Homo sapiens: one gene and its partner. The gene in region 2 interacts genetically with the main gene of each other region. Each region holds a gene or a part of one and is shown on either strand. Other genes may lie near its edges.

What was found.
Region 1: changes in ATF6 (region 2) and CSK are lethal when combined (synthetic lethality), as found in Homo sapiens cells (one large-scale study listed by BioGRID).

The regions. Positions count from the first base shown.
Region 1 is NC_000015.10:74,795,580-74,799,079, forward strand, and holds part of CSK (tyrosine-protein kinase CSK), read left to right. Parts: intron 1-2,632; exon of another isoform or gene 2,633-2,653; 5' UTR 2,654-2,718; coding exon 2,719-2,733; intron 2,734-3,035; coding exon 3,036-3,149; intron 3,150-3,246; coding exon 3,247-3,359; intron 3,360-3,500. UniProt on the Homo sapiens protein: Non-receptor tyrosine-protein kinase that plays an important role in the regulation of cell growth, differentiation, migration and immune response.
Region 2 is NC_000001.11:161,793,820-161,797,319, reverse strand, and holds part of ATF6 (cyclic AMP-dependent transcription factor ATF-6 alpha), read right to left. Parts: intron 1-3,500.

The sequences.
Region 1 (3,500 bases), on a different chromosome or scaffold from region 2:
CAGGTCCAAGGGGGCTCTGGGCTGGGATTACAAAGTATGTGTGTGCAGACGGGTGGGTTGCTGCTCTCAGGGAATGGGGTTGGCTAGGGTAGCTTTTTTGGGGAGTCAACTTTATTGAAGTAAATATACGGTTGACCCTTGAACAACACAGGGGTTGAGGGCATCAACCTCCTCCCTGCAGTCAAAAAATCATATATTAACTTTTGACTCCTCAAAAACTTAACTACTAATAGCCTATTGTTGTCAGAAAGCCTTGTAGATAAAGTTGATTGACACTCATTTTGTTTGTTATATATATTATATACTGTATTCTTACAATAAAGTAAGCTAGTGAAAATAAAATAAGAAAATCATATGGCCGGGTGCAGTGGCTCACACCTGTAATCTCAGCACATTGGGAGGCTGGGGCAGGCGGATCACTTGAGGCCAGGAGTTCAAGACCAGCATGGCCAATATGGTGAAACCCTGTATCTACTAAAAATACAAAAATTGGTCTGCTGTGTTGGCGCACGCCTATGATCCCAGCTACTCAGGTGGTCAAGGCATGAGAATCACTTGAACCTGGGAGGCGGAGGTAGTTGCAGTAAGCCGTGAGTCACCCCACCACTGCGTTCCAGCCTGGGCGACAGAGTCTTGCTGTCTCAAAAAAAAAAAGAAAGAAAATCATAAGGAAGAGGAAATATATCTACTATTCTTTAAGTCGAAGGGGATCATTATGAAGGTCTTCATCCTTCACATTGAGTAGGCTGAGGAGGAAGAGGAAGAGTTGGTCTTGCCGTCACAGAGGTGGCAGAGGTGGAGGCGGAGGAGGTGGAAAGGAAGGCAGAAAAGGCAGGCACACTCAGTGTAACTTACTGAAAAACATCCAGCCACGTGTGGTGGCGCATGCCTGTGGTAATCGCTACTTAGGAGGCTGAGGCAGGAGGATTGGCTGAACCCAGGGGTTTGAGGCTGCTGTGAGCTATGATCACGTCACTGCACTCCTGCCTGGGCAACAGAGTGAGACCCTTTCTCAAAAAAAAAAAAAAAAGAAAAGAAAAAGAAAAAATCCATGTGTAACTGGACCTGCGCAGTTCAGACCCGAGTTGTTCAAGTGTGCACTATACACCAAAAAGTGTGCCGATCGCAATGGTACAGCTCAGTGAATTGTCACAGAGTGGACCCACTTCATGATTGGGCTCAGACAGTCTGAAAACCAACCCCAGAGGTCCCCTTGCATTCCTTCCAGTCTCCCTGTCCCAAGAGCAGCTATCCTGACAGCATGGATTAGTTTGGCCAGATTTTGAACTTTATTCAAATGGAATTACATAATATGTACTTTCCTGTGTCTGGCTTCTTGGTTAACATTTTATTTATTTATTTATTTATTCATTCATTTAGAGGCAGGGTCTCACTCTGTCGCCCAGGCTGGAGTGCAGTGGTGTGACCTTGGCTCACTGTAGCCTTGACCTCCCCAGGCTCAAGCGATCCTCCCACCTCAGCCTCCTGAGTAGCTGGGAGTACAAGCACGCAGTACCACCCCCGGCTAATTTTTGTATCTTTAGTAGAGACCGGGTTTCGCCATGTTGCCGAGACTGGTCTTGAACTCCTCCTGGGTTTAAGCCATCTGTCTGCCTCAGCTTCCCAAAGTGCTGAGATTACAGGTGTGAGCCACTGTGCCTAGCCATCATTATGTTTTGAAATTTATCGGGATTGGCCAGGCACGGTGACTGGCACCTGTAATCCCAGCATTTTGGGAGGCCGAGGTGGGTGGATCACCTGAGGTCAGGAGTTCGAGACCAGCCTGGCCAACATGGTGAAACCCCATCTCTACTGAAAATACAAAAATTAGCTGGTTGTGGTGGTGCATGCCTGTAATCCCAGCTACTCAGGAGGTGGAGGTTGCAATGAGCCGAGATTGTGCTACTGCACTCCAGCCTGGGTGACAGAGCCAGACTCCATCTCAAAAAAAGAAAAGAAAAGAAATTCATCAGTGTTATTTAATGGTTGGAGTTTGTGTTGGAGTTTATTTAATGGTTGGTGTTTACTGCTGTACGTAGTCCCTTTTGTGAATATGCCACTGTTTATCCATTTTCCTCTGGATCGGCATCTGGGCAGCTCCCAGTTTGAGGTTTATTACAAAGCATGCCACTTGTAGCCCTCCTGTGCCTGTCTAGGCAGACACATGTCCTGTGTCCTCTCGGTGTGTACCTAGAAGTGGGGTTGGTATATGTTTAGAGATGCTACCTGGGCGGGATTTTGCAGGTGAAGGACCCAAGGACCCACAGAGCATAAGGGACTTTCTCAGATCACATAGCCCCTTCTCAGAGCTGCTCCGGGGCCCCTTTCCCCACAGAACAGTAGCTGGAACCAGGCCTGGGGCTGACGGTCAGGTGTCCATTGTCCCACTAGCCCCCTTTGCTCCTTTCTATCAGTCCTGGAAGGCCCCCTGTGGCCTTAGGGTTGGTGGCTCCCTCTGCCCCTGGGGGTCCTCAGCCCTCATGCTCCTCTACCCAGTACCGTCAGCCTGCCAGGACTGGAGAGAATGGCCCATGTGTCAAATCCCAGCGCAGGACACTCTTGGCACCTGTTCATGCCCAGTGAGGAGCCAGATCTCAGCAGTTGGGGGGCATTTCTTCACACCCCTCCTCAGTCTTCATGCTCTTCCCCACAGCTCTAATGGTACCAAGTGACAGGTTGGCTTTACTGTGACTCGGGGACGCCAGAGCTCCTGAGAAGATGTCAGCAATACAGGTACCACAGGGGTGAGGGTCTGGGACATGCAAGCATTCCCACCAGCCCCAGCGGGGTGCTTAGCAGAGGAGAGAGGATGCAGCTTAGATCAACCCACTCCCCTTTTTCCCAGCACTCAGTCAGGTACAGGCCTGGGGAAGTGGGGGAGTCTCAACAGGAAGGGACCCAGGGCTCGTTCTCCGGGCAGAGCACCTCACCCAGGCTCACAGAGGCCAGCTCAGAGGCTGTGACCACGAGGGTGCGCCAGCAGGTGGCTGGAGGGGGCCCAGGCTGCACCCGCCCACGTGTCACCTGCCTTGCAGGCCGCCTGGCCATCCGGTACAGAATGTATTGCCAAGTACAACTTCCACGGCACTGCCGAGCAGGACCTGCCCTTCTGCAAAGGAGACGTGCTCACCATTGTGGCCGTCACCAAGGTAATCAGGTGACGCCCACCCCACCATCCCACTGCTGGGCCTTCCCTCTGCAGGGGGAGGTGGGCCTGAGAGCATGTCTGGGCTGCCCTCTCCCCAGGACCCCAACTGGTACAAAGCCAAAAACAAGGTGGGCCGTGAGGGCATCATCCCAGCCAACTACGTCCAGAAGCGGGAGGGCGTGAAGGCGGGTACCAAACTCAGCCTCATGCCGTGAGTACCACGAGGAGGGGTTGGGGAGGGAAGGGGCCTTGGTCCTCCTGAAGGAGCATCAGGAGCAAGCAGGGAGGCCAGAGTGAGGGGCTTGGGTGTTGGGGAGGGCCTCAGGAGGAGGTGCAGGGTGCGGGTGCGGGA
Region 2 (3,500 bases):
TGGCTACAACTTCCAGCACTATGTTGAATATGAGTGGTGAGAGGGACATCCTTGTCTTGTTCTGGTTCTCAAAGGGAATGTACTTCCAGCTCTTGCCCACTCATTACAATGTTGGCTGTGGACTTGCTATAGATGGTTCTTATTATTTTGAGGTATGTTCCTTTGATGCCTAATTTGTTTTGAGGTGGCCTCCATCTTTTATGAAGTAAAAACATATAAAATGCAGAAATTACTCAGAAGCAGATATAAACATGCTTAGGCCAAATACGCAAATAAAAATTAGAAACACATAAAGTAAATAGCATATGACCAAGTGTTAGGTTTTAATAACAATAAGAAATTACAGTAAATCTGGCACTATGAAAATATATATTTATCATAATGTGAAAAAAAAAACCAAAAAACAAGAATTCCCAAGTGCTCAAGTCATAGCCAGAGCAATCAGGCAAAAGAAAGAAATAAAAGGCATCCAAATATGAAGAGAGGAAGTCAAACCATCTCTCACACAGATGATATAATTCTACACCTAGAAAACCCATAGTCTCTCCCCAAAGGCTCCTGAATATAAGGGCTCTCTTTTAATATAAAATAATATCCTGGTCACCCAAAACCATCAAGGTTGTCCTTTCAGCTTCTGTGTACTGAGAAAATACATGATGGAAAAAGGCTGCTAAGAATTTAGTGAAGATTTAAAATGAACTTGGAGTTTATTAGTCAGAAGTATAGCTATAAAAATTTGAAGAGCTGTACAAAGATATATGAAATAAATTATTTGGTCTACAGAAAATGCTTGCTTCAAGTATGGATTTGCAGATGCTTTGCAAAATGCCATAAAGCTACTACCCCCATCACCCACATCCCAGGGTCCACAATATACAGACTGAGAACCACTGACTTAAACCAATACTTTGAGAAGAGTATTATAGGAAGCCATGTTCTACATCCTCTGAGTTTAAAATTATGATTAAAAGATCCCTCCCCAAAATTAAACACTGTTCAGGGAACTTTGGGACTATTTTAAAGAACAGAAGAGGTGTAAATATAATGAATTAGGCAACTTATAAGAAAGAATCCTATTTCTAGCTACAGTTACAGATTTAAAGCCCTAGCAGATAACATGTACAGAGGGCTTTGTAATATTTCTTAAACTAATTAAGAAAAATAATCCAAATCTGTACTACCAATTGTGTAATTACCACTGTCTCCTTGCTGAGACGACCGCATCACACAAAGGAGATGGAAGAATACCAAGGCAAGGCCAAATGTGGCTTGAGTCCTACCAAGCCACTGCTGCTTCCTTTTTTTCCCATATTGTATCAAGCCTTTTCATCCCAGAGTACCCAACTATCCTCAAATTACCCAGCAGCTAAATCAGGGATACTCTAAATATTCTAGGCATGTTTGGGTTCAACACAGAATGAGGGGAAACAACTAAATTTCTATGACAATATGTTCAAGTGAAAGAACAAAAAACTCTCATGGTGACTTGGTAAATGCTGACCAGGCCACAAACTACAATGCAAAGAATTGTTTGGGGCCTTAAATAGCAGCTGAACATAGTTACTACTGTTCCTAGTGTGGAAACAGTTAAAAAGGACATTCCAAAGGCTGTTTATCCATTTTAGCATGCTCAAAATCCTCTCTGGCATTACATGCAAATCCCCCTTAACGGAACATGGCTGGATTCAATGCCATATATTTTTTTGACTATGTGTAACTCACTGATTTTGATAGTTCTTTCTTTTAAACTTTCTTCAAAGATTTTAAACTATGTATCAAACATTTATTGAATGCCTACTTTGTCTGAAACAGCATCGGTGTGTGACTTAGGGCAAATAATCTGTACTTAGCGTTCTCATCTAAAAAATGGAGATATCACAACCCATCACCATAAATCATAGAAACATACTGAAGTTTCAAATAATGTGTAAATATTATTTGAAATAAGATAATGCACTTAAGCACTTAGAAGAGTGTCTGGCACATAGTAAGAACTTAAATGCAATTATTATTATTATTAATCTCCTTTTCTATATAATAATAGCTTCCATAAGGGCACTGCATGAGTTATTAATTTATTAGTTATCACAGTGACTGTTATTTAACTGTTTATGTGAATTTAATCCCCCAATTAAAGTGTAGAATTCTTGAGAGCAAGGAATACATCTGTCATTTTTTTTTTAAGGCGATACAGTATAGTGATTATTCACATAGACTCCGAGCCAGACCACCTGGGCTCAAGTTCTGGCTCCACTTCTTATTAGCAGAGTGATCTGGGCAACATATTTTACCTCTGTCTCCCATTTCAATAATTTTCGCCATCATCTACCCAAAAAGCCCCAAGATAGAAAAACGGAAGTCATCCTAGACACCTTCCTCTCTATCGTTCAGCCTCCTTCTACACAATCCAATTACCAATCTCTAAGATTCTACACTTTTAACATCTCTACTCTTCATCCTGGTTCTCCACTTTCATTGATATTCCAGGCTTTCATTATCTCTCATCTACACTACTCAAAACAGTCTTAAAGGACATGGAGGACTGAGAAGTAGAAGTAGGCATAAGTTGTTGCTGGTTGGTAGAAAATGGTGAGCCAAAAAACTAGGAAAAACAAGAGAATTCAAAGGACAATGACAGATTAGTTGAGCTAGAAGAAGGGATTTATAGAAAAGAGTAATATTATAAAGTTCGAAAACTAAACTAGGAGGCCAGGCATGGTGGCTCACGCCTTAATCCCAGAGCTTTGGGAGATCAAGGTGGGTAGATCCCTTGAGCCCAAGAATTCGAGACCAGACTGAGCAATATAGTGAGATCCTGTCTCTATTAAAAACAAACAAACAACAATAACAAAAAAACAAAAAACTAAACTAGAGCCAAATTGTGAAGAGTTTTACATTCCAAGCTAGAGAATCTCAGTCTTAAACCTGTGGAAATTACCTCTTCTTTTTCAATGGTAACATATTTACTACTAGTATTAACATGATTAACTGTATAATGTCTTGCCCATACTTCCCTTCTTCCTCCCCATTCTCAAATAAATGAAAAACATACTTTAAATCTGTATGTTATTATAATAATACCACCTATTTAGATTGTACTATAAAAACAGACAAGGCACCAGGCGCGGTGGCTCACACCTGTAATCCCAGCACTTTGGGAGGCCGAGGCAGGCGATTACGAGGTCAAGAGATCAAGACCATCCTGGCCGACATGGTGAAACCCTGTCTCTACTAAAAATATAAAAATTAGCTGGGCATGGTGGCACGTGCCTGTAGTCCCAGCTACTCTGGAGGCTGAAGCAGGAGAATCACTTGAACCCAGGAGGTGGAAGTTGCAGTGAGCCAAGATCACACCACTGCACTCCAGCCTGGCAACACAGCGAGACTCTGTCTCAAATAAAAGAAAAAAAACAGGCAAGGTGCAGTTCCTCATATTAGCACATGCTCACAAAAAAATAACTATAGTCTTCAGATGACAGGAAAGTATTGAAGTTTCAAAT